Homo sapiens: one gene and its partners. The protein of the gene in region 4 interacts with the protein of the main gene of each other region in a pairwise test. Each region holds a gene or a part of one and is shown on either strand. Other genes may lie near its edges.

The links.
Region 1: the proteins of SPATA12 (region 4) and GSN interact in binary tests that used the Homo sapiens proteins (3 or more experiments, as listed by UniProt).
Region 2: the proteins of SPATA12 (region 4) and DNAJB6 interact in binary tests that used the Homo sapiens proteins (3 or more experiments, as listed by UniProt).
Region 3: the proteins of SPATA12 (region 4) and NUP58 interact in binary tests that used the Homo sapiens proteins (3 or more experiments, as listed by UniProt).

The regions. Positions count from the first base shown.
Region 1 is NC_000009.12:121,263,264-121,271,293, reverse strand, and holds the start of GSN (gelsolin), read right to left. Parts: upstream 3,133-8,030; 5' UTR 3,075-3,132; intron 1,370-3,074; exon of another isoform or gene 1,238-1,369; intron 1-1,237. UniProt on the Homo sapiens protein: Calcium-regulated, actin-modulating protein that binds to the plus (or barbed) ends of actin monomers or filaments, preventing monomer exchange (end-blocking or capping).
Region 2 is NC_000007.14:157,410,004-157,417,198, reverse strand, and holds part of DNAJB6 (dnaJ homolog subfamily B member 6), read right to left. Parts: coding exon of another isoform or gene 7,091-7,195; exon of another isoform or gene 2,512-7,090; intron 1,184-2,511; coding exon 1,101-1,183; 3' UTR 1-1,100. UniProt on the Homo sapiens protein: Has a stimulatory effect on the ATPase activity of HSP70 in a dose-dependent and time-dependent manner and hence acts as a co-chaperone of HSP70. Plays an indispensable role in the organization of KRT8/KRT18 filaments.
Region 3 is NC_000013.11:25,325,522-25,332,716, reverse strand, and holds part of NUP58 (nucleoporin p58/p45), read right to left. Parts: intron 5,802-7,195; coding exon 5,683-5,801; intron 5,288-5,682; coding exon 5,205-5,287; intron 1,361-5,204; coding exon 1,159-1,360; intron 1-1,158. UniProt on the Homo sapiens protein: Component of the nuclear pore complex, a complex required for the trafficking across the nuclear membrane.
Region 4 is NC_000003.12:57,056,024-57,063,718, forward strand, and holds the start of SPATA12 (spermatogenesis-associated protein 12), read left to right. Parts: upstream 1-4,640; 5' UTR 4,641-4,763; intron 4,764-7,695.

The DNA of each region.
Region 1 (8,030 bases), on a different chromosome or scaffold from region 4:
TAACCTCCGTCTCCAGGGTTTAAGCAATTCTCATACCTCAGCCTCCCAAGTAGCTAGGATTACAGGAGCATCCCAGCACGTATTTTCAGTAGAGACAGGGTTTCACCATGTTGACCAGGCTGGTCTCAAACTCCTGGCTTAAGCCATCAACCCAACTCGGCCTCCCAAAATGCTGGAACTGCAGGTGTGAGCCACCATGCCCAGTTAAAAGATAGCTTTTTATTATTATCATGCAAACCAACATCTCTCCATTTTACACATGAGGAACCAGAGGCTCAGAGAGATAGGATTTGCCCAAGGTCACCCAAAGAACCAAGACTGGGGGTCCATTTCCAAGTCAGTGCTTCTAACTTCTCTCACACCTGTGGTCTCTGATAAGCAAATATACACACCCAGAGGCCGCAGACACAGGATGTAAAAGTTTTCTTAAAGAAAACCAGAGCTCAGTGTCTCAGCAACGTACCATAGACCAAGCAGAAATCATCTCTATGACCCACATCACAAATGACCCAAACTATTCACATGGAGTAGGGGAAAGTGACCCACTGTCACTGGATGGCTAAAAGTGAAGGCATCCAATCAACGTGTTTGGCAGGAGTGCACACACCATTGTTAACAGTGGCGACCTCTGGGGAAAGAGGCGGGCTTGGAGGGATTCTTTAACAATTTTTGTTTGTTTTAAAACTCATGAAAAAGAAAAAAAAGTTACAATGCTGAATACCTTAGCAACCTTCTCCAGTAGGTCTAGCCTGTTGTCTGCTTTTAGATGAAATTTATAGCAGGTTCTGAGACCTTCAGCTGGGCTTCCAGAATCTGCTGCTCTGACCCATCCCAGTGGCCACTGCTCTAGTTCAGACCTGCAATCTACTTCACTTGAATCATGCAACAGCCTCCTCAGGGCCTTCCTGCCTCCAGATCAGCCTCGTTCAATGCATCCCCTACATCAGCCATTCAGAATAACGAGTTTTTAAAAATCACTGCTCTGTCAAAACCCTTTCTCAGCTCTTCATTGCCTTCAGGATGAGGTCCAAACCCTTAGCTTATAATCTAGTTCCATTTTCATTTAGATTCTCAACCTCCCACCACCCCGCCCTTCTCCCATCCTCCACTCTAGCCACATGGATGGCTCAGAAAATCTCAGTGCCTTTGCACTAGTGGTTCCTGCTTCCCAGAATGTCTTTTCCCCCAACTCCTGTTTCTCCTGGTAAATGATTATTCATTCTGAGGTCTGGCTCACCTAGACAAAATTAGTCACTCCTCTTGCAGGCTGAAGTCACTCTTAATATGGCACAAAAGTGTCAAACAGTATAGATGGCAAGCATCTTGAGGACAGAGAGCTCTGTCCTCTTCCAAGGCTCTTTGGCCCCTCGCAGGGCAAGGCACAGAACACAGGCCCAGAGAAGTGCTGAAAGGAGGGAGGCGGGGAGGAAGGAAATGCCATGCGGGGCAAACCCTGCAGCCACCCCTCCTGGGAGCAGCCTGTTTCCAGGCTCATGTTAGTCCCTAATAAAAGGACTGTGGAAAATTCTGGAGTAAACTTTCCTCCCCTGATTCACACAGAAACCTTCTTTGCTGCTGTGTAACTCACCGAGTGCCAACCCAAGCTCCCCTGGCTGTTTACAATTTCCCTGGCATTTATAAATAGCATGGCCCCAGAAAGAAAAATGGAGTTTCAAAGGAGCTGAAAGCCGACCGTTCCCACCCCCATCCTTCCTCCTCTGTTTCCAAGCCTCTCCCCCTTAACAGCCCCAAGAAACACCAACCAGCACCCCCAAGTGTGTATGTACAGGGAATGCTTGTCCCTTTAGTAAACGGAACACCCAAGAAGGAGGCTAGAGTCCCTCCCAGCAAGGAGTCCGCAAACGGCAGACCGGAATTGGGTCTCAGCCCTACCCTGCCTCACTGTGTGACAATTAGCCCATCATAAACTCTCTGGGTCCTTGACTTTTCTCAACTGTGAAATGGAGGAAATGGAGATGGGGTAAGATTCTAGCAAGCTATGGTCGCTGTAAACGGCAGAGCGGTGAGAGGTCCTGGTGCCCTGGTCAGAAATGTGGTCCTGGGAGAACAGGACACACAGGATTAAGTGTTTGAAAAGTCCCCAGATGCCAAACAAAAGCGAAAGGCACCTCCCCAGAGGCCCCGCCTTCCACAAAGTCCAATTACCCTCAGGACAGCCCAGAATGAGTTCTGGGTGTTTTAAAGCTCCCTTCCATGCTCTGAGGAGGGTGTGAAGACAGGATAAAGCGACAGATGTCTGGGCAGACAAGGAGCTAGGAAGAAAGCCAATGTCTCCTGCTCACCCACACCCCCAGCCCCCAGCCTTCCAAGGACTGGGGCTTCCCCCTGGGCACTGCCCAGACCAGCCAGCCTGCACTGGACCAGAGGGAAGTTGCTGTTATTTAGGTTCTGGGGGGCTGGACCCCAGAAGACATGGGGGCTCAGGGAGAAGGGGTTCCAATCACTGTCTTCAACTCCAGAAGAAGCTTCCGTGTGAGTCAGGGAAGGGAACACTGCAGGGCCGGGGAGAAGCCAGCACCTACAGGTAGCAGGCGCCTGAAGATTTCAGACAGTGTAAGGAAGAACTTTCTAACAGTCCCCAGAAAGAGGAAGCAGCTGGAGAGGAGAGCAGGCACAGGTATCGTCCAGGAGGCAAGGGTCCTCTGAGTGGACTCCCCAGCAGAGTCACCGCCCAGACCGTAGCTGGTGGTCCCCTGCATGCCCGGGTCAGACAACCCAAGTGCAGGGGTGACCCCGGGCCAGTTCCCCCATCCCGGGGGCGGGGTCGAGGTTATTAGCTCAGGTGCTAGCAGCACAGTGGAATCACGGGGTGGAGGCCTGGCCCCTCTCCTCTCCTGCTCCGGCGTCTCCCCATCCCCCAACTCCCATCCACACTCTTTGGTCCCTTGGAAGACGGGAAAAGTGAGCGAGGAAGCCCTTTTCCAGCGATGCCCCCGCGGCCGGGCCGAGCTCCAGGCGCGGGCGAGATAGGACCGGGAAGGAAGGGAGAGGAAGGACTCAAATCAGCCCGGGACCCCCAGATGCCCGGGGCCGGGGCCGCGCGCCTCCCCTACCTGCTGCTGCGGCACTGGAGACAGCGGCTGCTGGGTCCAGCTGCGCTCAGCTGGTTCCGGGCGGCGGGGCGGGGGCGTTGTGGTGCGCGCGGCCGGGGTGGGCAGGGCGCGGGCGGGAGCCGCCCTCGGGGCGGGGCGGCCGGGCAGGCGGGTGGGGGAGGAGCGCCAGGCCCTCCCGTCGGCTGCTGGGCGGGTGGCTCCAAGCTCGCCTTCGTCCAGGGGGACCCCTCGCTTCACCTCGCAGGAAGGCACCAAACCAAGCCCTCTGCTTTCCCCTGGAGGAAACTGAGGCCCGGAGCACGGAGGGGAGATCTGAAGAGGCCTAGGGTCGGGGAGGAGACCCAGGGCAGCTCCTGAGCTGGGCTGGGGCCAAAGAGCTCAGATGGGACGGGCAAGCGAGCAATGCTCAACTAGCACCAGCGGAGGCAGATTTCAGCCCTGGAGAGAACGGACTTCAGGAGGCAAAGCCCTCGAAGAGTGACATAGGCTGCATGCAAAGCAGGGGAGATTCCCTCCCACGGAAGGGAATAAGGAGGAAGAGCGATTCCCAGCTCATTCCGAATGAAGTAACGAAAATGCCAAGTGCATCCCTGGTCCTTAAAGTGGACCATTAAGCAGGCGCCTCGGAGTCAGAAGGCCTGGTTTGGAACCCCAGACATCGACTAGTCCTGTAACTTTGGGCAAGCGAGCTCACATGTCTAAGTCTCCGTTTCCTCGTTTGTCAAATGGGCATCCTGAATTGCCGCTTCATGGGGCGGTTGAGAAGACTCAGTGAGAAAAAGACTCTCAGCACAATGACAGGGACCGTGGCTTCTGCATAAACGGAAGGGATGTTCTTATTAGTGTCATGGCAGATACTGTTTTAGGAGATTGAGGAAATCCACATTGGGTAGAAAGATGAGTGCAAGGTCAATTTTAAGCAAATGTAATACTTTGTTGATTTCAACAACATCTCATATGCATTTGAGACGATAGCCGTTTATAATGCAGCAAGGCATAAGACGGCCTCCCAGCAGTCCTGGTGCACACATGAGTTCCCAGGACTTTTGGAGTTGCCGCGTGACTCCGGTTTGGAAGGATTCACACACTCCACAGGAGACTGCACCACATGACAGAGATGTCCATTCCCAGCCTGGGTGCTGGCAGCAGCCCCATGTTCAGCCAGGGTAAAGCTCCCTCTTAACACAAGGTAAAATGTACTAGAGTCAGTAATTGCCGGGTGCTGGGGATCAGAGCAGAAAAGGCTGTTGTTTAAGTAGCACAGAAGCCAAGAGCACAGTGCTCACTCCCTGGTTTTTCCATTGAATAGCAGCCAGGGAAGCCACAGGACCCAGGGAATCTCACCCTGGCTCTTCCTCCTGCCATTCTCTCTTTGTTCAACACCAGTAAATACAAGAACCATTTCTTGAATGCCTCATGCCATGCTCTGGGCTTCCCACGTATTACCGACTTTAATTCTCACCTCCCTACCTGGCCTCCTAAGGGAGGCATTACCATGTGTATTTTTCAGATGAGCAGGCCAAGCCCACAGAAAGGGTTAAGTACTCTCTGGAGGTCACACTACTGATACTGTGCAGTCTACTCTTCTATGCCTGAGTCCTTGGCCCTCGCTTCTTTGCTCAATGTCTTATGTCACACTCTGCCACCTTTCCTGGCTTGGGAAATTCTGCCCAGTTCCACTTTCTCTGAGAATACAAGCAAGGTATCCACCCCGCAGGGAGGCTCACACCATCTCTGCTACTCTCTGCTTTCTCCAGAGGCTGCCTGGGGCCCAATGCAAGGCTGCTGGGGAGAAAAGCAAAAACACAGGCTTATTTGGCTCTGGAATCTTTGATTACAAGCCCCGGCATACACATGCCTTGGAATTATCTAACATATCATTTCCAGCCCCAGCAACTGCTCTCAGACAAAGGGAGGTGGAACTCTGAATCTGTGTCCCCATAGAACTGGAGAATACCACATCACGATGGAGGAAACATTGGAGAATGTCTGCTCCAACTCCTCCCTTTAGAGATGGAGAAACTGAGGCCAGGAGAGCAAAAGGGTTCACATTCTAAGCTAGATCTAAGGTTCCATATTCTAAGCTGGGTCAGATGCCTACCCATAACCCTGTAATTGCTCCATTTGGTGGCTGGAGAGGAACATGGGAACAGGGTATCACCAGGAATCATTAGAAATGATAATGAAGATAATGATGATGATGATTGATTGATGATGATTGTGATGATGATAACCAATACTTACATGGGAGTGCTCCTCTAGGAACACTTCTAGAAATCTCCTGGTGCTTTGCTTTATGACTCAACATGTGTATTTTATAGCTGGCAGGATATATCAAGTCTGCCTTTCATGGATGCCTAGAAGTCTTCTTGGTATCCTGTCTTCATTCCTTTCTAGATACCTCTTTGTACTTCTCCCCCCATTGGATCTAGGTAAGGTAAGGCCTGTTTGTCCTGGATCCTCACCTCAGAGTGAATGTCTTGCTGATAAGGATCTCCTCTGATGGAAGAACTTTGATATCTTCTTTTGCCAGAAGACCACCTCCTTCCCAGAGTGAGGCTGGGGAGAAATGAAGGCCACACACAGGCCAGGCATTAGACAATCTGGGGGTACCTGCTCTCTCCTCTGAGAACGCCTCTTCCCACCCAAGGGGATGGCCCTCACTTGCACCCAGGTTTGTACTGTAACCTTCCCCCACAACACAGTTGACAGCATGAGGAGTGGACGGCAGAAAAAAGCTGGACTATTAGAATTTGGAGCTGGAAGTTGAGACATGACAATCATGGTTAATTAACTGGGTCTGTGAGGACCAATGATCTCTGAAGGCCAAGGCTGCCATTTTGAGGTGGCCATCTTCCATCGTATTCACAGAGAAAGCCAATGAGGCTCGTTAAATGACTAGAAGGGTGTCGCAAAACTCACAGAGGAGATGCCTGGGCTGGGCAGCCCAGGAGGCTTCAGGGTTCAGGGGCTCTTCTGATTACAGACCTCTCCTGGAGCTGGCTTCAGAAAGAGAAGTTATCAGCACAAGTATTTGTTGAGCATCGAATGCCTTGTAGTTTGTCCCTAGAAGCAGAGGATGAGACAGGGATTTCATACAAGGGATTACTTGAGAGAGCACTCTCAGGAGATCCTGAAATATCCCATGGAACACTAGGGCAGGGGTGCAGCTGGGCCTCAGGATCAGACCACAAGCAGGACCTGAGTACTAAAGGGAACCCAGAAAGTACTCTCTCCCCCATCTTTCATCTCTGCCTGTCTGCTCACATCACACAAGCATTTCTGCTTTCCAGAAAATGGCTTTTACCAGCAGCAAGCTGGAATCTTTGTTTGTAGTCCACATTCTAAGTTGGATCAGATGCCTACCCTTTATCTAATTAACTCTGGCCCGAGTGACAGGGTCCTACTGCACAAACCTGGCTGCTCCCACTGTAACCTGTGGGTGGAGGGGGTGCACTTCCCAGAGAAAAGGGGAGGGGAAGCCAAGCAGAGACAACGGCTTGGATTCAGTCAGCCTTGAAAGGATGGAAAGAATAAGAGTGGAGGTGAGGAAGGGAACAGCATCTTCTGCTAAGAGCACAGAATAAGCAAAGGTGTGGAGGTCAGAGAAAGACAGAGCTGGAAGAAGGAAAGGAGACTGTTATTTTCTCCAGCCTCGGTCCCCTTTAGTGTTGTGCTAGTGTTGTGTTCTTAAGAACTGATTTAGTGTGTTTAGTGTTGTTTTCTTACGAACTGATTGCTCAATTTCCATGAATTTTTGTGGATTTTTTTGAGACAAGATTTCACTGTCACCCAGGCTGGAGTCAGTGGCACAAACATGGCTTCCTGCAGCCTTGACCTCTGGGCTCAAGCAATCCTCCTGCCTTAGCCTCCCAAGTAGGTGGGACCACAGGTACATCCCACCAGGCCTGGCTAATTTTTATGTTATTTGTAGAGATGAAGTCTCTCTATGTTACCAGACTGGTCTTAAACTTTTGGGCTCAAGAGATCCTCCCACCTCAGCCTTTGAAAGTGCTGGGATTATAGGAGTAAGCCATCACACCTGGCCAAATTTCCATGCATTCTTACACCCAGCTGTATTAAGGCTGTATTAAGCACAGCCTTCAATAACAATCTATATAAACTTATAATTAAGTAAATTATAAATTGATATGGTCTGGCTCTGTGTTCCCACCCAAATCTCATCTCGAATTGTAATCCCCATAATCCCCATGTGTCAAGGAAGGAATCTGGTGGAAGGGAGGTGATTGGATCATGGGGGCAGTTTCCCCCATGCCGTTCTCATGATGGTGAGTTCTCATGAGACCTGATTTTTTTTTTTTTTTTTTTTTGAGATGGAGTTTCCCTCTCGTTCCTAGGCTGGAGTGCAATGGCGCAATCTCGGTTCACCGCAACCTCCACCTCCCAGGTTCAAGCGATTCTGCTGCTTCAGCCTCCTAGTAGCTGGGATTACAGGCACCCGCAACAACGCCCGGCTAATTTTGTATTTTTAGTAGAGACGGGGTTTCTCCATATTGGTCAGGCTGGTCTCGAACTCCCGACCTCAGGTGATCCACCTGCCTCAGCCTACCAAAGTGCTGGGATTACAGGCGTGAGCCATCTTGCCCAGCCGAGACCTGATTCTTTTAGGAGTGTTTGGCAGTTCCTCCTTCACACACTCTCTCTCCTGCCACCACGTAAGACTTGCCTGCTTCCCTTTCCACCATGATTGTAAGTTTCCTGAGGCCTCCCAGCCATGTAGGACTGTGAGTCAATTAAACCTCTTTCCTTCATAAATTACCCAGTCTCAGGTATGTCTTTATAGCAGTGTGAAAATGACTAATACATAAATAGAGGTAATAAATTCTCAAAACTTAGTACTTCATAATTATTTTACTATATTTCACTATTATCTGTGCTCTTATTTTCACCATTTATCTATATGGTAGAAATACTGTATAATTGTGTGCAATTGCA
Region 2 (7,195 bases), on a different chromosome or scaffold from region 4:
TGCTAGATTAAAATTGCTGGCATTTTTAAATCACAGCAAAGCTTTTCACAATGCCCTCAAGTCCAAGAGGACAAAGGAGAAAGCAACATGAACGGCAGATCCTCATGTGAAAGGGAAGGAAAGTCACTGGGAGGGAGCATGCAGGGAAGAAGTCAAGGCAGCCCTGGAATTCTACTCCGTGCTCAATAAAAACAAAACGTGAAGAAGCAATACATCATGCAAACGAAATAATGACCGGAAGTGGGCGCATCTAGTTAGAATGAAGTGACTTTCGTAAGGAGTCAATGTTCGCGAACTGAAACATGAGTTCAACCTCCTTGTGCCGTCTCTGGGTGTTTTGCGCGTGTGTAAATACCGGCCCGTTTTCCCCAGCATGGCCCTAACCCATGGACACTAGGGAGAGTGCCACTGAGCAAAAATTTTTTGCTAAAAATAATTAGCAAAAATCCAAGAAAAAAATATGGAATCTAGCAAAACCTACACCATATTTGAAGTTGAATTTGCACTACCTGCAAAGGATGAAAATTAAAAGAGTAAACAGAAGGAATGATTTTACATCTGATGTGATTCACGACAGCCTTCTATTCGTGTGGCCGGATTGCTCTGAGGAAAAGGTGCCCTGACGGGCAGGATTCAATGTGTCACTTGCAATATTCTCTAAGTTACACTCTACTGAATTACCTTCTAATTCCAAACACTACGCCGCCACAGAAAGCCTCATTTCATGAATGTTACTCAGTTAGCCATCTGCGCCCTCCTGTACTTCTAAAGCCAGAAATATTCCAGCAGCATGCGGAGTGGTTGAGTAGCCGAAAAGAATGAAGAGGATCCGGAAGCACTAGAGGAAAATGCAGCAGATTGAGAGCTGGAGAGAAGCAGAGAGTCGCGGCCAAGTCCCAAACGTCTGTCCCCGCCACCCGTGCCGTCAGCCCCGTCTCCTGACCCTGCTCTGACTGATCCGTGATCGCATAATCCTGCCGAGCGAGTGTGGCCTCGAGACAGTCCTGACCGACGCTGCTACCTAGCGCGTGTGCACGACCGCATGCCGAGCACGGTGGAGCGCCAGCGTCTGGGGGTGCACCGCGTGCCTCAAGTCCGGTCTAGTGATTGCCTTTGGTCGACTTCTTCTTCTTCGACTCCTCTCTCTGCTTCTGCTTCTTCCTCTTGCCACCTTCTTTCAATCCTAAGGAAACACGGCTTGTAAAACACTGTACGGAACAGCACTGCTTCCCCAGCAAGAGCCAAACATGTTTTCTAAATATCTCCCCATGTTAAGAACAAAAAGCAACAAAATGAAGTCATCTATCTTGGCCACAGCTAAACCTCAAAACGGGCGCTTTCCAAGGTGCACGTTGAGAACTGCTCACACTACCCAGAGAGCTTCACCACCCTGCAGAGAAGTGAGGACTCCCACCTACCCGAGTTCCGCCCAGCGGCAGAGCTAAAAGCCCACCCTGGGACTACCCCAGTTCTGCCCAGCGGCAGAGCTAGAAGCCCACCCTGGGCACGGCTGCACCTCAGTCCTGGAACCCCACCCTGGGACCTACCCCAGTTCCGCCCAGCGGCAGAGCTAGAAGCCCACCCTGGACACGGCTGCACCTCAGTCCCGGAACCCCACCCTGGGCTCTCCTTCAGAACGCACACTGGGCCTGCGCAAAGGTGTGCCCACCTGTGGGGAGGGTGTCCACAGGTGTCTCCTCCGCTTCCCCCGCTGGCCACAGTGCAGCCTTTCTGCAGGCAAAGCCTTGGTGTGGACTGGCCTCATGTTTGCCAGCTCTGTGCCATCCAGCGTGAGAAAGTCCCATTTCTTATTGAGGAAAGTCTTTCATTTCCCTGTTGCTAAAGTCAATGGCTGACACTGACTGATCCAGCTGAAGTGCATGGAGAAAGACGCCCACCCTCTGAACGTCTGATCCAACGTGCCAGAAATAAACACCTCTGGATTCATTTCTGCAGAAACTGTCTTGAACTCAGTGTGTGCCAACGTGGGTGCAGGAAACAGGCCCGATGTTGAATTTGGCCACAATTGTCAACATGACTGGGCAGAGGGAACATGGCCGGCAGCAGGCAGGGCAGGCCTGGGTCCCACACGCACAGGCCCTCAACCTGCCAGAACTCTCCAAAGACCCACACAACTTCACATGGTGGCATCGTGCCTCACAGGAAGGTGCCTGCTCACAGCCCTCTTGGGGGCCTGAGGCCCTGCCCACACTCAGGACTCGCCCCAGAGAATCACAATCATGGTAGGCCGGGTGCCAGGCTCCAATCAGATGCATTCCACACCCAGCTGACGGCCGCCACGCTGACCAACATGTCACAGGTGCAAGTCCACTGAGTGTGGCTCACACATGTCCTGGACCACAGTGGGGCAAACACATGTGGACTTTCAAATGTGCTGTGGCTCTCACCACTGAGCACTGCCTGGACCCCGACAGCTCTCCACGAGAGAGGGACAAGCCTGCAGATCCAGTCCACACCCCACCCACAACCACACCACACCACACTCGCCTGTGACCCGTGCACAGTGGAGGCTGCCACCTTCCTCGCCAGAGGAGCGCGTCCTAACCGCCCTACAGGAGCAGCACGAGATGCGCGTTCAGAACCGCCAAGCGTTCCATGCTGCATATTTAGGAAATGTGCCTCAAGCTACGGTTACGGAAAGAAAGAACGAACAGAGAGAGGCCTGTGTGCCGTTGGCGGCTGCAGAGGCCGCTGAGTACCTGCTTCCAAAGCAGGGAGGCGGCTCTGCGGAAAACGCAGAGGAAAGGAAGCGGGAGGAAGCCAGGAGATCTCCGTCCCGAGGAGCATGCGGGGAGCCGCCGTGACTGTGGAGGGCGGCCAGGGCAGAGCCAGCTCTTGGAGGCCGTGTCCCTCAGAGGAGCCTCGTGCCCCGGGACCCAAGGGACCCCGTGGGATGGGGGCGGGGTGGGGGGGTCAGCACCGCCTGCGGTTCCTCCGCTTCAGCAAAGCAAACTTTACCAAGACCCCAGAACAAAGGGAGTAACGGAGCTCCTTTAAAGCAACTGCTGCCACTGGGCCTTTATGAGCTAGGGACGGAAAGCCTGAGGTGACCACACTGCAGTCGCCCTCACCCGCCCTGGGGCTGCCGGGATGGTGGGGGAGGGGCGGGTCCGGTACAAGGAAACCACTTTCCGGTGTTCTTCAAGCCTCCACTATTGCCGGGCGCGGTGGCTCCCGCCTGTAATCCCAGCACTTTGGGAGGCTGAAGCGGGGGGATCACCTGAGGTCAGGAGTTCGAGAGCAGCCAGTCCAACATGGAGAAACCACATCTCTACTAAAAATACAAAAATGAGCCAGAAGTGGTGGCAAGCACCTGTAGTTCCGGCCACTGGGGAGGTGAGGCAGGAAAATCGCTGGAACCCTTGAGGCAGAGGTTGCAGTGAGCCGAGATCACGCCACTGCACTCCAGCCTGGGCGACAGAGCGAGACTGTCTCAAAAAAAAAAAAAAAAAAAAAAAAGTCCAAAATTGAAGTGAGAAAAACAGAGCAGGCCTTCCTGTCACCTGAACCTCCTGCAAATCACAGACATGGCCTTGGGCACCGGCTCGCGGGCTCTGGGACTTCGTGGGACCGCCAGCCTTGGGCACAGTCCACAGAGGCACGCTCTCCCACCAGTGACTACTTAAAAACTTGTCCTGATAGAAAACGACTTAAGTTTTCTTATCAAGTTTAAGGACTTGAAAACCCTTAAGTATAAATACACAAATTAGTTTCATTAAAAAGACAAACTTCGAGCTGTTGAAAGCTGAGGGCAGGGTTAGATTCCCATCTTCAGTTCCGAGAGCTCCATGCTGTGCTTCACAAAAAGGGAGACATTCTACAGCGTTCCAGGGCAGGCTGCTTTCCTCAGCCAAAAAAACAAAGGACCTGCTTTATTCTTTCTTTCCTGTTCAGTAATTTTACTTTTCCTTTTTTAACAGTTACGTGTTCTTGATACTCCTACAGTATGTGTGGAATTCACAAACACAAAACATCACTCGGCCTTTCCAAAGCCTGAGTGAGGATCCGGTGGGTTCCCGGTGGTGCCTCTGTCCTCTGAACGCAGGCAGGGCGAGCGCTGGGTTTGAGGACTCCACACAGCAGCAAATGCCAGCCACGGGAACCCCACACCACGCAGCAGGGACAGGCGCTCCCCGCTGACTGTGACAGGGCACCCCCTGCACCCCGCGCTCCCCGACATTCCTGCTTCCACTGGCTGCACCCGTTGTCAATCACACCAGACACAAGGAGGGGAAATTCTCACAGAAGCAGTACGTTCAGTATTTTGAGGGGTGCATCTCAAGTGAGAGCTCATTTCCAGCCTAAAAAAAATCATGCCCTAGAACCGCCCAGGCCTGGGGGCTGCACACCTGGCTGTGACCCTGTGAGTGGAAGCTCGCTCACTCCTGGGAGCTCCGACAGGACCTGCTCGATTCAGGGACGGGTCAGACGGCTGGAGGCCAAAGTGGGGGCCATCAATACTGTCGGGTGGCCGGTCTCCTCACTGTATTCCTTTTACAGGAACCTTGACCAGGACATGCAAATCCCACAAAAAGATGATAGTGGGATCTTCCAGGCACCCAGAGGCCTGGCCAAGAGTCATGGGTTTTCTGTGACAAGGGGCTTCGGGGAAAGCGAGACCTTCAGTGACGCAGAAATGCAGCAAACCAGTATCCTGACTCAGGAGCCTGTGTTATCGCTACAAAGTCCATTCGTCAGAACACCCAGCAGGCTGGAGCTAAGGGGTCTGCACCCGTGTGACTTTGTCACTCCCACACTAGCACGTGCCCTTCTCTGTAAGCATGTACAGTTGTTCGGATTTGGTGGTGCAGGTGCTCATTGTATAATGAGCGAGCCTGCAGGGGCGGAGGCTTGCTCAACCTCTTCCCTGTCACCCACCAGCACCCTGACACCGGAGTTGGTGAGTGAGTCGCAAATGGCCTCTGCAGAGACCAAAACCACCCTGCTTTGCAATTTCACTCCAGTTCTGTCTCCAACTCTGCAGCGGTTTCTTGACTCATCCTTTGAGTCAGCTTTGTCATCTCTCAGTAAGAACTTAAGTAAAAGTCTCTGACGTGTTCGTTATATATTTGTATAAAAATCACGTCTTTAAATCTTTGATGGTTACTTTGGTATCTTCAAGATCTCATGAAGCGATTAAAAAAAGGAAACAAATGAGAGGAAAAGCCGCAAAACGGAAGATCCACAAAGAGGATCCGGGCAGAAACAAAAGCCATCACTGGCCTCTTTGCTCTAAGGATTTGTGTTGGGATTCAGCAGTCAACCAGTTCTCCCCACTCAGAAACGGTGTATGGCGGGGAAGCCGAGAATACGTGGGGAGAACAGCGCCTGCCTGCCCGTATCAGTCCCGCCCACAGCCATAGCCACAGGCGCTGAAGGCCTGGGAGGAGAAGACCCGCCCAGTTCTGACATACAGGTGTGGCCTCGGGCCTGCGGTGGGTGCCGTTCCAGGAGCCTCACCGCACTTTAAACATGGCTCCCCCAGGCGGCCCGCACCTGCACACCACGTTCTCGGGGCCTGCGAAATCACAAGGCCCCTAGCAGGCCAGGCTTCCGGTGGCCTCCTAACCCCAGTGGTTCAGGGACACTACAGCTACAACCCTGCTCTATCCTGCACCTTGCAAAGACCCATCGACAAACAGTGCACCCTCCCTACGGCCATCAGACCCTCCAGTACCAGGAGCGCACAACAGACCCTGGGGAGCCTCCCCAACGCCCGCTCAGTGCAGGGATCCTGGGGAGCCTCCCCTACGCCCGCTCAGTGCAGGGATCCTGGGAACCTTCCCCACGCCCGCTCAGTGCAGGGATCCTGGGAACCTTCCCCACGCCCGCTCAGTGCAGGGAACCGTGGGGAGTCTCCCCCACCCCGCTCAGTGCAGGGATCCTGGGAACCTTCCCCACGCCCGCTCAGTGCAGGGAACCGTGGGGAGTCTCCCCCACCCCGCTCAGTGCAGGGAACCGTGGGGAGCCTCCCCCACCCCGCTCAGTGCAGGGACCCTGGGGAGCCTCCCCCATGCCCGCTTAGTGCAGGGGGAGTTCTTTCTGGGTGCATGCAGCCTGCAACTGCCTCTGTCTGTCACTCAGTGACACAGCACAGACTCACACAGCAAAGGTGAGCGCAGCACGGCAGGTGGGCGGCCGGCTGGAGGGGCTGCCGTGCCCACCCACAGGCGGCACATCCTGAGGCTCTCACGGCTGGGGGTGCACCTTCCGTCCTCCTCGGAAGCGTAACCGGCAACTGTGCTTCATCCGAGAAGGACTGGAAGGGGCTAATTTTTCAATGGAAAGTTCCATGAAGGGAAAAGGAGAGACGCTTCCCCCTTCTTTTCATGTCCTGCTTAGACAGTGCTGTTCGGCCCAAGTCCACAGAAGTAACCTCACGACATCCGCTTCGGTCCCCCAAACCCAGGGATCAACCATCCATGTCTTCCTGCACGACATGAGCGGCTGGGGTCACCTCACCGCGTGCGGTGATAAGAACCAGAAGAGGCACAAATACTTCCAACTGACGCACGATTCACACTACATGGACCCTGGGCTTTAGGACGCAGTCAGGGCCAAGCCTACATGCACAGCACGTCCTCAGGGTGACCCAGAACTTCTCCGGGGCACTCACTTCAGAGACTATCCGGCTCCCTAACAGGTGGGAGGAGGGCAGGGCGGCCAAGAACCCCACGGGGGGTGGGCGGGCAGACTACGCTTCACAAGGAGGCTTGACTTGAGGGGGTCTTTTGTTCTGCACCCAGCGCAGAAGAAGGCACGAGAAGGTGAAGCTGACGGAGGGGCAGGGGCAAACGCAGACCCCACCAGCACGAGACCACCCGGCCTAAGCCACAGGCCTCAAGCTCTACGCTGAAAGCTACGAAAAGGCACGTCTACGGTAAAAGCAGCACCTCGCACTGCCGTGGCAGCTCTGTCATCCTTTGCGGAGCAACACGCTGCGTACAGGACACGCGGACCCCGTTTTAACGGTGGGGGGCCCGGAGCCACCGTGGCGTGGGGCGCCGCGAGCGGGAGAGGAGCAGAGCGAGGCTACCTCCTCCCGCCCCGCCCGACCGCCCACGCCCGCTCAGGTCAGAACACAGCAGCCCAGGCGCGGTTTGTGTCCTCGCTGTCCTCTGGCACCCAGAGAAGTCTCACTCTGCGCCTGCTCCACGGCTGCCTCCCTTTGCAC
Region 3 (7,195 bases), on a different chromosome or scaffold from region 4:
CAGCCACGGGATATGGAGGATTTGGCATAAATCTATCATCAACCCTTTACTTATGGCAAGTCAATTCTGTCATCTCCAAATGTGAAGAACAATTTTTTAAACTGCCAATAGTGAAAACCAGAGAATGCTTCCCTAGTATAGGTAGCTTGAATGCAATCTAAATATGTATTAATTTTTTTGTGTGTATTATAATGTACTACTGGACTATATGGAACTCTCAGAAAGACACATGCTATTGAATAGTAAGCATTACTAAGAAATTTATGAATGATTAAAATAAAAAAATCAATATCGATTAAGACTATTTTTCCATGTCAAGCTTCAAACCTGACAAAAGGGATGGCAGGATTAAGATAACTATTAACCTCCGAAAGACACAGGACCAAATAAAACACTGTAGAATGACCACAAAAAATGTTTCTCTAATTAGAAGTGTAACTAAACCAAGAAATAAAACAATCTGCTTTCCATGTCACCAATTATTTTCATCTGTTCAACTTCCCAGTTGCTCCTTAATGTGCAATCCACATCTCAAAACATCTTTTTCCTGCTCTTGCTGTTCTGTTCACCTTGGAAAGGTACAATTCTAGCATGTATCATCTTCAAAATTTGGTTTAGAGGGCTTGTATTCTGTTTACAGTCAACATACATACAAACAAGCCTATTGATCTTCAACATACCTTCAGTCAATAAAAGCATACTTCATCCTGAATGTGGGTACTTTGTAATCACTATGTATGAGGAAAATGAGAATGCACCACCTATCAGTATCATATATGAAAAATTCAAAGAATGGATGGATGATCTCTGACTTTAAAACAATAAATGGTACAGTCATGATTTCAGAATCTAATGTTATTCTTAAATGTAATTCACTAGTGAAACACCATGTTCTAAAGGGCATTTATAGCATTACAGCAAATAACATTAAGTAGATTCACAATATTCAATATCTAATTGATGTATAATTATTGCTAAGACTACCCTGCCTTTTTTATCAGGTATGTTTATAATCGTGTCCATCACAATTTTAGATTGTATTGGAACAGCTACTCATAGAAATTTCTTCAGTGCTCACACAAATGGAAGACTTATAAAAACGCACATAAATGTTCTGCATTGGAACAGTAAGAAGCTATAACTTGAATGCGTTCAGACCTGTAGCAGGCTGTTGCTGCTGTGTAAGTGTTGCAGCCATGGCAACGGCTGCTGCGTTTGGCATGGTGCTGAAAGGAGTGGGTCCAGTAGTAACTCTGGGTGTGTTCTGCCACTTCTTGGCTTCTGCTCGCCTTGTTTCAAACACATCAACAGCATCTCCCAAGAACATTTTCCTGTAGCCAAGGTACTGTTCTTTCAGAACCTAAAAGAATAATAAACAAAACGGCTAAATGAAGTTTCACATTGACTATGGTTAATATGTGGATGAATATAACCATAAATTACCAAAGACAGTCCCAATATTATACATTCAATCCAAACTGCAAATTAGAGTGCTAATAATGCACTTTGGTGTAGGAAATGATGAGTTCAAGAGTTCTACTGCTCCCTTGAATAGTTTACTCCCTATCTTTACAATATGCTTCCTAAAATACTGTCTTTGTGAGGCCTTGTTTAAAATAAATCAGCTAAGCTTTTAGACAGAGTAATATTTAAATACTCCATCAATGTGCAGATGGATGGATGAAAAGAATTTAAAAATAAATATTCCAGTTTTTCAAGAAACTTTCCCCTCAAATGTCCAACCTTTTCATAGCCTTTTGATTAAAACAGTTTAAAAAAAAAAGAAAGAAAAAAAAGTCAGCACTAAATATACATACTTTTAAATACATTTTTTAGAAGGCCTGGGTAACACATGCTAAAATAAGGTGTTGCACCTCAGCAGTGGTTGGAGGGTATGATGAGGGCTTCTACTTTATTGCTATTATTTGACCATTGTACAATGAGACTTGATTCATGTTAAAGTTATGAACCCAACCACCCGCCTCAAAGAAAAAAAGTGTTTGTAACTCCAGAGTAAGAAAAATTCCCAAGTTCATAAAGTGAGCTGCTTTTACCCAATGCAGCATCTGCTTTGATTAAGGCCATCAACAGCAACAATTCTGTTTCACTTTAGAATTATTTTATGCTTTCATTGAAGATTTAGCCTAATTTAGATAGGTTTTTAACCACTTTTTGAAGAGACACAGATTTTTCATATTTCTTACATTTCTTAGCAGAAATTAGTAAACATTAGGTTCTGATTATAACAAATACAGCACTTAAAAATCTTACTGTTGTTTATAGTATTTAAAAGCTATCATCGCCCTTTTTGTGTGGATGTCAGTGTTTGATGTTCCAATTCCAAACTTTGCTACATTTATGATGTATTAAAAAAGGGGGCCTGCCAAGAACTGGATACTGGGGAAGATACAAAGCCAGAATCAAGACATATGATGTAAGAAAAACAAGCACTACCGATCTCTTGCAAATCCACCCTTCCTTGTCCTGGGCAAGCATCAGTATCCCATAAATTTTAGTTCTACTTCAGATAATGGAAAATAATGATCCACCTTAGAAACTTAAGACCAAGACCATTAGTTAAAAGAAACAGCCTGGCCGCGGTGGCTCCCACCTATAATCCCAGCCCTTAGGGAGGTCTAGGCAGGAGGACTCCTTGAGGCCAGGAGTTAAGATCAGCCTGGACAACACAGCAAGTGCCCCTCTCTACAAAAAGTTAAAAAATTAGCTAGGTGTGGTGGTGCATGCCTGTAGTCCTAGCTACTCAAGAGGCTGAGCCTGAGGCGGGAGGATCGCTTGGGCCCAGGAGATTGAGGCTGCAATGAGTCATGATTACGCCACTGCACTCTAGCATAGGCAACAGAGCAAGCCCTTCTCAACAAAACAAAACAAAATAATAAAACAAACAAACAAAAACCTTGACATCAGCCATGATTTATAAAACAAATTGCTAAAACTTCCAAATGTGTTAATGTTCCTGAGGCCTGGCTGGATAGAATAGTTAACGCCTGTTTCAACAGATTACCTAATGAAAAACAAAACGAACAAAAAAATGTCTTGTGAGATTTCTACAAGAAATAAAGAAACCTAGAGCTTAGTTTGCTCACTAAACTAAGCTAAAAATAATGGCAACATACCAAATCTGATTATAAAATATTCTTTGGTTCTTGGGAATATCCTTTCGTTCCTGGGTTGCTTAAAGAGTAGGTCAAAATTTCATGTCTACAACGTTTATTTGACGTGATCTAGGGCAGTTTTATGTGGTCTTGGTCTCACTGTTTTATGGTCATATTACCAAAAATGATATATTTTCCAAACCAGAGAGGAGACAGTGCTGCTAAAAAAAATGTACGTTTACACCTGGCATTTGCTCTGAAATACTTCGTGGGGGGAAAAAAAGCATCTTCTGTGGAGCATTGATAAAACAAGTTCAGCAGGGTTTTGATAATGGTTGCAATTAGGTAGTCATACCTGGGCATTCAGTATAATGATAGCCTACTTTTGTGTATATTTGAAAGATTTCATAATAAAAATTAAGGAAAAGAATTCTGTGCAACGGACTTCAAAGTGCCATACATTAATTTTATTAAAAAATTAAAGTAACATTTATTATAGACTAATAGAATTTTTTTAAATCTGATAAAATTCCTCCTTTAGAACAAAATTTAAAGATTTGGGTTACAGTTTTAAATCTACTAAAGCAAAAGGTCTAAAGTGCACTACCATTTCAAAAATGGTGTAATTTAAATGGTTTACTTAAAAAAATCCTGTTACTATGCATGAAATCAAAATAAAAATGAAAATGTTGATAATTCCAATTAAACTCTATTCTACACAGTTGATAATTTATCTAGACTCAGGTTTCGCTGCTTGAATTTTAAAGGTATTTTGGACCACATACACTCCAAGATTAAAGAGTTTAATTACATTTGCTCAGTTAGTTAGAAAAGATGTACTTACCTTGAACATTTCACTTAAATACATTTTTAAAACTAACGTTATTATGAGAGTCAAAATATTCAGGCTGGGTGCAGTGGCTCATGCCCATAAATCCTAGCACTTTGGGAGGCCGAGGAGGGAGGATTGCCTGAATTTAGTAGTTCGAGACCAGCCTGTGCAACATGGCAAAACCCTGTCTCTACTAAAAATACAAAAAATTAGCCAGGCATGGTGGCACGTGCCTGTAGTCCCAGCTATTCAGGAGGCTGAGGCATGAGAATCACTTGAACCCAGGAGGTGGAGGTTGCAGTGAACCAAGATCATGCCACTGAACTCCAGCCTGGGCGACAGAGCAAGAGTCTGTCTCAAAAAAAAAAAAAAAAAAGCGAGAGTCAGTCTAAATATTCAGTGATAAATCATTTTATTTACACTATTTAATAAACACAAACAGTTCCCTGTATTTAAAAGGGAGAAATGCTGTAAGCCGGTTTTTAATGCAGTGGCCAATAAACACTTAAAACAGATAAAATTAAGGTAGTACAAAATCATTTGCTACTAAGAATGCTTATTTTCTTTTTTTTTGAGATGGAATCTTGCTCTGTTGCCCAGGCTGGAGTGCAGTGGTGTGATCTCGGCTCACTGCAACCTCCACCTCCTGGGTTCAAGCGATTCTCCTGCCTCAGCCTCCCAGGTAGCTGGGACTACAAGTGCCCGCCACCATACCCGGCTAATTTTTGTAATTTTAGTAGAGACGGGGTTTCACCATATTGGCCAGGCTGGTCTTGAACTCCTGACTTTGTGATTCGCCCGCCTCGGCCTCCCAAAGTGCTGGGATTACAGGTGTAAGCCACTGTGCCTGACTAAGAATGCCTATTTTCTATAGTGCTATTTATAGTAGTAAAGAAATAGAAACCACCTAAATATCCAACAGAAAATGGGTTAAACAATGTACAACCATACAACAAACTCCTATGTTAACTATTAAAAATGATATTCAGGAAATATGTGTATTAACATAGAAAGTTATTCACAATGCACTGCTTAAAAAAAAGTTATAATAACAGACTACAGCGTACTTGGATCTTTTTTAAAAGAACAGGTATTATCAATCGTTATGTCTGGGTATGTTATGGATTATAGTAGTTTTCATCTTTTCACTTATATGTAATTTTAGCTATTTCTGTATCAAGCATGGACACATTTGTCCCCAGATGAACAAATACTTGGGTCTACATATCCAGGTAGATAAATGGGTAATGAAAACTTACCTTTACATTTTCATGAATAGACTGAAGTTGTGCCGCTAAAGCTACAAATGTTTGATAAATTTTCTGCATAGCCATTGACAAATCTATAAAAGAAAATTACATTATCACCCAAATATATACATATATATAGCACAATCCATTTTATTTTTCTATTTGAGTCCAATTTTTGGCACAGTTAACGTGTAGGAGAAAAAAACTCTATCAACGTTCTCATGGCCAGAGAACACACAGAGTAGCAGACTGAATGTCTACAAAAGAAATCTGGGGGGAAGGCCCTAAGATTTCTGTCCTTGTTACCACAGTAACAATTCATATAATAAAGCATATTATATTTATAGGGAATAAAGGAGTAGTAAATGACTTTTAAGGAAATTTTCTTAAAGGGGCTACCAGTAGTTATCCAAAATACCTATTATATAACCACATCTATCTCCTACAAACAAAAGTTCAAAAAAAATTACCACAGTAAGCATGTTACCTTGAGGGGTTATATGTGAATTATTTGCTTGAGTGGCAAGATGGTTTTCTAGTTCTTCAATCTGCTGCCTGTACTGCTGAAGCTGTACCTCAAATTGCTGAACCAAGATTCTGAAGTAGCTTTAAAAAACATTTAAAAAGTCAGATCAAATATTTTTTTAATTTGGAGTGACAAATCCAAATTAAGGAATATTCTGCAATCATTTAATAGTCTTCAAAAGTATCAAGGTTATCCAAGGAAAGGAAGGACTGAATAACTGTGACTGGAAGATATTAAGGAGAAATTACAAATGCACTGTGAATCCCAAATAGGATGCTGAAACAGAAGTACACTAGTGGAAAAACTGGTTGAATTTCAGTAAGTTTAGTAGTTTAGTTAATAATATTGTAACAATTTTAGTTTCCTGTTCTTGGTAATTATACTATAGTTATAAGTTAACATTAGGGGAAGCAAGGGAAGCGATATAAATAAATTCTCTGTACTACTATTTTGGAAGTTTTCTGTAAGGTTAAAATAAATTTAAAATAAAGTAGAAACGTCTACCAACCAGATTTCAGAATTAAGAATTTATAGTCATTTTATCAATGAAATTTATAATCTGAGAACACCATAGTATACTACAGAAAGCACATGTAATTATTGCTACTTTTCTAATAAATTTACCCACAGAGAGTGCTAGACAGATAAAAAAAAAAAAAGAAGGTATCTTGAATAGTATACAGAGGAATCTGAATGTCTTTCAGTAAACAATGGGCAACCATGAATGCATTTTGCAAAATTAGCTCTGATGGCAGTATTAAGTACAAGACAGAGGGATAAAATAGTAGAGGAAGTCCAGTGAGGAAGCACATCTCATGCCAACCTGAGTAAGACGAATATCATGGGCATTATGAATTTCCTGATTTTGAGAACTGTTAAGTATGAGAATATCCTTATTTTTAAGAAATATCCACTGAAGTACTTTAGCATAGTGAACATTATTTCTGCAAATAACCCAAACTGTTTGGGGGAGAAATGTATATACACACATAGAATGTGAGGAACAAAAATATGGTAAAAATGTTAATATGTAGGAAATTGGAATGAAAGGCATACAGGAATTTTTAGTTCTCATCTTGAAACTTTTCTGTAGACCAAAATTATAATAAAAAACTAAAAGAATAAAATAAGTAAGGGGCCAGGCGTGGTGGCTCACATCTGTAATCCCAGCACTTTAGGAGTCTGAGGCGGGAGAATCACTTTAGCCTAGGACCAGCCTAGGCAACACTGTGAAATGGCATCTCTACAAGTTAATTAATTAATTGTGAGGGACCAGGAATCAAACAGACCTCCACCACTCAACTCACTTTTGCATACCTCAGTCTCTTTATCGCTAAAACTGGAATAACAACAGCTACAGAGATCTTGTGAAATATGAAGGTAAAGCATGTATAGTCCTAAGCACACTGCATGGGAAATAGTAAGCATTTGGTAAACATCAGTTATTATTATCTTCATCAACATGGAAGGACAT
Region 4 (7,695 bases):
GCCACAGAATATGAGCAGACATAGCCCCTACTGTCACCATGCTCACAGCCTGGAGAAGAGACCAATAAAAAATGGGAGCAGAGGCCGGGTGCGGTGGCTCACACCTGTAATCCTAGAACTTTGGGAGGCTGAGGTGGGCAGATCCCGAGATCAGAAGATCGAGACCATCCTGGCTAACATGGTGAAACCCCATCTCTGCTAAAAATACAAAAAATTAGCCAGGTGTGACAGCACACACCTGTAATTCCAGCTACTCGGGAGGCTGAGGCAGGAGAATCTCTTGAACCTGGGAGGCGGAGGTTGCAGTGAGCCAAGATTGTGCCACTGCACTCCAGCCTGGGCGACAGAGCAAGACTCCATCAAAAAAAAAAAAAAAAAAAGAAGCAGAGCAAGTATGCAGGGAAAAGTGATCATGGGGAGCCTCCCTGCAATGTTTGAGCCAAACTAGATATGGGAGGGAGCTGGCCCTAAGAGAAGGGGCAAAAGTGTTCTGGACAGGAGGACCAGCAGACTCAGAGGCTGAGCAAGCAAAGGGATTGGGACATAGCTGGAACATCCATGAGACCAGGAGGCATGACGAGGAGTGGAAAGGGCATGTTAGTTAAGGCAAGAAGAGATGTGGATTTTTTTCTAAGCAGAATCGGTTATCGTTTCTTTTTCTTTCTTTTTAGTTTTTTGTAGAGACAGGATGTAGCTATGTTGCCTCATGTTGGGCATGGTCTCAAACTCCCGGTCTCTGTTATCTTGAACATATACCACAAGGTCCTCTATGAGGTTGATGCACCACAAAAGACTATGGGATTGAAGGGCATTCAGTCAACTGGTCCACCCTGAAATCCTTCTATCCCACCATGGTTCAAGCAGGCGACAAAACACAAAGGCTCCTCTTGGCCTTGACCATGCAGGTCTATACACACACACACACCCCACACACCCCTGCCCCCTGCCCCCTTCCATCTTTTCCTTTAGGTCTAAACACAAGCAGGCTGTCACTCCACCTGCCCCCTTGGTAGTACCTCCAGCTGTAGTCCCGTTATGATCCTGGGTAAAATGGGGTCTACACTGCAGGTTTCTGCATTTTTTAATTTTCATTATTATTATTTTTTGAGATGGAGTTTCACTTTGTTGCTCAGGCTGGGGTGCAGCAGCATGATATCGGCTCACTGCAACCTCTGCCTCCTGAGTTCAAGTGATTCTCCTGCCTCAGCCTCCCAAGTAGCTGGGATTACAGGTGCGTGCCACCACACTTGGCTAATTTTTGTATTTTTAGTAGAGAGCGGTTTTGCCATGTTGGCCAGGCTGGTCTCGAACTCCTGACCTCAAGTGATCCGACTGCCTTGGCCTCCCAAAATGCTGGGATTAGCTGTGAGCCACCGCGCCCGTCCAGGTTTCTGCATTTCTGTTCATGATTTCTCAGCACTTATCCCAACTATAATTTTACTTGCATTCATGTGACTATTTGATTAGTATCTGTTTCCTGAGTGAGTCTTGTCTGTTGACTCTGGTAGGGTAGAGTCTGAGCCGGTCTTAGCCACCAAGACTTCCTCAGCACCTAGCACAGGGCCTGGCCCAGGGTAAGTCACACCCACACCCACACCCCCACACAAGCTTTTTTAAAATGTAAAAGTTTAAATACAAACGGAGAAAGAATATAATGTACCCTCTGTGCCACACATCATACAATTTGAGTGGTCAACTCATTCCTAATATTATTTCTTCTACACTCAACCCAGTGAAGCGAACTCCAGCCATCGTATCACTTGATACATACTTGAGTGATATAGAGTAAGTGAATGAATGACTGCCTCCTACTATAACAGACAAACTGGGGGGCTTAATTCTTGCTCTCACTGATTTTACTGTCCATACTAGACAGACAAGGGAGAGTTGAGGAGGGGCCACTTAAATGAGTCAGTCAGTTTTGCCACCAAGTTAGCAACTCTGATAAAATTTCAGATGAAACTAAAACTATTGTCCAAAGTGAATTTCCTTTTCCTCATATTGACTGGGCTTTAACCCTTCAGTCGTGTCCTTGCCATGGCCACATTCACCAAAAGCCGACTGTAAAGGAAGGGAGGGTTACCTATTTCCCACAATCTCTTTCAATTAAAAGTCCTGAAAGAACAAGTTTCTTTCCATAAAATAAGCCATGTGGCCTTTTACACAGAAAAATAAGGAATGCCTGGAAATTAGTATTACCACTTGCTCCCTCAAGGGCCAATCTACATTACACCTATTTTCTCTATTTTCACATTTATGAGAACTTGTTCCAAATCAGTCTGGTCTTTTTGAAATGCCATTACAGTTTTACATACATTGGACAAAACTGTCATAGACTGTGATGCTCTCGGCGTCCAGCAAAATGAGTGATACTTGTACCCAATGGGTTTGTTTCATGTCACCTGCCCTTCAAGGTCCCAAAAGTGTGCATAAAAATAACAACTTGAAATGCTCACATGCCAGGAAACAACAGGTGCTGGAGAGGATGTGGAGAAATAGGAAAACTTTTACACTGTTGGTGGGACTGTAAACTAGTTCAACCATTGTGGAAGTCGGTGTAGCGATTCCTCAGGGATCTAGAACTAGAAATACCATTTGACCCAGCCATCCCACTACTGGGTATATACCCAAAGGATTATAAATCATGCTGCTATAAAGACACATGCACACGTATGTTTATTGCGGCACTATTCACAATAGCAAAGACTTGGAACCAACCCAATGTCCAACAATGATAGACTGGATTAAGAAAATGTGGCACATATACACCATGGAATACTATGCAGCCATAAAAAATGATGAGTTCATGTCCTTTGTAGGGACATGGATGAAGCTGGAAACTATCATTCTCAGCAAACTATCGCAAGGACAAGAAACCAAACACCGCATGTTCTCACTCATAGGTGGGAATTGAACAATGAGAACACATGGACGTAAGAAGGGGAACATCACACACCAGGGACTGTTGTGGGGTGGGGGGAGGGGGGAGGGATAGCATTAGGAGATATACCTAATGTAAATGATGAGTTAATGGGTGCAGCACGCCAACATGGCACATGTATAGATATGTAACAAACCTGCACGTTGTGCACATGTACCCTAAAACTTAAAGTATAATAATAATAAAAAAAAGAAATGCTGACATGCAATCATACTTAACTATGCCTTTTTTTACTATAAAATATATTCATTACTTGTATTTTCTAAATTTTTTCATAAGCACAGGGAAAAAATTTTAAGCCTTGTCTTTAAGCCTAGAGCAAGGGTGTCCAATTTTTTGGCTTCTCTGGGACACACTGGAAGAAGAATTGTCTTGGGCCACACATAAAATACACTAACACTAACAATAGCTGATGAACTAAAAAAAAAACTCATAATGTTTTTTAAAAGTTTATGAATTTGTATTGGGCCACATGTTAGACAAGCTTGGCCTAAAGATAAGTCACATTTTGGAGTCTGTTCTTCCCCGTGTGTGTATGAGTTGGGGGTGGGGGGAGGGAGGGTGGTGAGCAGCATGATTACAAGTCCAGGCTCCTTAATCAGTGATAGGTTCAAATCTGGCTCTGCTATCTGCCACCCACATAGCCTCAGGCAAGTTGCTTCCCTCCATAAGCACATTTCCTCTTCTGCAAAGTAGGACTGAAATGACTGCCTGATGGGGTGACAATGAGGCTTTAAAAAGACGAAGAGGGGCTGGGTATGGTGGCTCACGCCTGTAATCACAGCACTTTGGGAGGCCAAGTTGGGCAGATCACCTAAGGTCCAGAGTTCAAGACCAGCCTGACAAACATGGAGAAACCCCATCTCTACTAAAAATACAAAAGTAGCCAGGCATGGTGGCACATGCCTGTAATCCCAGCTACTCGGGAGGCTGAGGCAGGAGAATCGCTTGAACCTGGGAAGCAGAGGTTGCAGTCAGCGGAGATCACGCCATTGCACTCCAGCCTGGGCAACAAGAGTGAAACTCTATCTCAAAAATAAAAATAAAAATAAAAATAAATAGATGAAGTGAGGGACAAGGCATGGTGGCTCACACCTGTAATCCCAGCACTTTGGGAGGCCAAGGCGGGAGGATCACTTGAGCCTAGGAGTTCAAGAGCTGACTGGACAACATAGCGAGACCCCATCTCTATAAAAAATTTTAAAATTAGCTGGGTGTGTGACATGTACCTACAGTCCCTGTGGGAGGATCTCTTGAGCCTGGGAGGTCAAGGCTGCAGGGAGCCGTGATTGTGCCACGGCACTCCAGCCTGGGCGACAGAGCTGAGATTCTGTCTCAAAAAAAAAAAAAAAAGGAACTTAGCCCAGGGCCCGTATGCAGCAAGCACTTAAATGGTATAGCTGCTGCTACTCGGGTTATCAAAAAGGAGCTGCAAAAAAGTCTAGGTTCTGCAGGAGAGCCCTTCCAAGAACCTGCCCAGGAAGTGGGTACACCTGTCCCCACCCCCACAGTAGGAGTCAGAATCAGGGACTGGAAGGGATGGGGTTCCTGGAGGAAGCTCACAGCAGCAGCAGCCTCTGAGTCACAACTCAGCCCCTCCCTGGCATATCCCTTTGTTTGCTGGGAGTTGAGCTGTGACTCACAAAGGCTCTGGTCCCGGGCTGGGCCCATGTGACCCAGGGTCCTGACTGCCCTGCCCACAGTCACTGAGAAAATTCTTTGTGCAGGCTCACCTTCCCCTCATCTCCCCCACTCTTCCTGATCCTGCAGCGTCAGATCCCAGCCTGCAGTATCAGACCTCAAAAGGAGCCTCTGGTGTCTTGTGAGTAGTTTACCTGCCGCCCCACCCCCACCCCGAAACACACACACACACATGGGCACACACCACCACCACTTCTTTTTTGGCCTGTGCCTGTTTTTTCACTGTGCTACATTTTGACATAAGTTCAATCTATAAAGAAAAAGTCCAGGAGAGTCCAACTCCTCTTATACTCTTTTTTATTGTGGTAAAATATAATATAAAACATACCACTTTAACCATTTTTAAGTGTACAGTTCAGTGACATCTAGCACATTCACCATATTGTACAACTCTTACCATTATCCATTTCCAGAACTTTGTTGTCATTCTAAACAGAAACTGTGTACCCATTCAGCGGTAACTCCTCCTGCACCTGCCCCTCTCCCAGCCCCTACTGTATTAATACTTCTCTCTCTAAACTTGCTATTCCAGGTACCCCCTGTAAGTGTCCTTTTGTGACTGACTTTTCTCATGTAGCATAATACTTTCATGGATCAGCATGTTGTAGCATGTGTCAAAAATTCCTTTATTTATTATTATTTTTTTTTTTGCAATGGGGTCTGGCCCTGTCATCCAGGCAGGAGTACAGTGGCACGATCATAACTCACTGCAGCCTCAAACTCCTGGGCTCAAGAGATCCTCCTATCTTGGCCTCCCAAAGTGCCAGCATTACAGGTGTGAGCCATCTCACTCAACCAGAAATTCCTTCCTTTTTAAGGCTAAATAATATTCCATTGTATGTACATACCACATTTTGTTTATCCATTCATCTGTCAATAGACATTTGTATTATTTTTACCTTTTGGCTATTGTGAATAACGCTGCTGGGAACATGGGAATGCAAGTATCTGTTTGGATCTCTGCTTTCATTTCTTTGGGTATATACCCAGATTTGGAATTGCTGGACTATATGATACCTCTATGTTTAACTCCTGTTACACTTTTAGGATTCTGGCAGCCACCACAGCTAACTCTCAGTGAGCAGTCTCTCATCCTGTGTTACTCACCACTCTAAGAATTTTTATTAACTCATTTAGTCCTGAGGTGTGGTATAATTATTTTCATCCCCATTTTACAGACAAAGAACCTGAGGTGAGAGAGGTCCTCCTTCTCAGATGGCAGCATCAGTATCTGAGCCCGCATAGGTTCAGATTTAAATTGTTTCTCCGGTTGTGACAAAAACAAGGTGCTGCTCTGCCTACAAGCATTTTCTGCCCTGAATAATGCCTTTGGGAGGGTTTCCACATCTTTCCTTGCTCTGGACTAAGGATCAAGTAAAAAAAGAGAGTGGGGCAGGGATGCTCCACTGGATTGGATCTGTCTAGACTCACTGCTAGCAGTGAGAAATCCAACTCCATCTAGATGGGTGAGAAGGGGGATTTGTAGGAAGATCCCTGGAGCAGCTCAGTCATGTGACTAGATCCAAAGGCAATGTGCCCAACCCTCCCCTCGCAGCTCCACACTCTGGGCCTGTCCTCACTGCTCTAGCGCTGGGTGAGTGCCTTCAAGCACCTTCTCTGCCACTTCTGAGTGGGTTAGGATGACCCTGAGGAAGCCCACAGCCTGGCAAGGGTGGCTTGTGTCTAGCTCCAGACCGGCTACCACAGCCGAGGGGAGGGGAACCATGATAGGCCCAGCCAGGACCACAGCCCCCACTCGGGCTCAGGCTAGGCTCAGGAGCACGGCGGCGGGGGCGGGGGGTGCTCAGGAGCATGGGGAAGCCTTTCAGAGAAGAGGGAAGGAAGCAGGGCAAGTGCCCAGCACAGATGCTGCATAATCTACAATAGCAAAAGATTGGAAGCTGCCCAGTAGTACTGAACAAAACAAGGTTAAATAAAGCTGCTCTAGCCACTCAGCAAAACACTATGTAGCTGTTTAACAAGCAGGAATATCTGGTGGGAATGACAGGACTCGCTGTTTCTCTGTCTACACACATGCACACACACACACACACAACAAACATGCACACACACATACATACACATATGTAATAATTCACAGGTAAGAAAAATATAGGCAAGAATTATATCATAATAGAAGAATCAAATGGCTTTTAATCTGTTTACCAAACTTTTCTTTACGGGTTCAACAAATTATTGTCTGTACCAGGCAAGGCACTGGGGACATGACAGGGAACACAATAGAAGAAAAATCCCTGCCCTCATGGAATTTACATTCTAGTGGGGGAGGCAGATGACAAGATAAATAAGCAAAATACACCTTATATTGGATAACGATAGTGTAAGGAGAAAAAGCAATGAAGGCAAAGGGGAAGTTGGGATGCAGTGGTAACGGTTTAGACACGATGACCAGGGAAGGCTGAAGGAAATGAGGGACCAAGCTCTGCAGATATTGGGAGAGGTGCATTTTGGGCAGCGGGAATAGCAGGTGCAAAGGCCCTGAGGTGCCCACGCAGGGAACAGCATGGAGGTGATGTGGCTAGAGTGCGGTTATGAGGGGGAAGGGCAAACTAAGAGAGGAGTCAGAGAGGAAATGCAGCCAGATCACATGGGGCCTTGCAGCCAGCCACCCTAAAGGCTTTGGCTTTGTTGCAGTGAAATGAGAGCTATTTGAGGGCTTTGAGCAGAGAAGTAGCCAACCCTTCAGAAGGTTCCCTCTGACTCTGAGTTGAGAACAAGCTGAAAGGAGGTAAAGGCAGAGGCTTGGAGGCCGCAGTCATTCAGGTGAGAGGGGAGAATGACCTGGAGGGTGGTAGGAGCGGGAGGGGAGCAGTGGCCACTCTACAAGTAGAGTCTTTTGACAAGTGAAGAGAAGAGAGATACAAAAGTCAAAGATGACGCCCCAGGCTTTGGGCCTGAGCAACCAGGAGGTTGGGGTGCTCCTTAACAGAGATGTGGGAAGAGGATCAGGAGAGTCGGGCATCCTAGAAGCCAGGTGAGACAAGGCTTCGAGGAAGAGAAAGTGACCAACTCCATCACACGCTGCTGGTAGT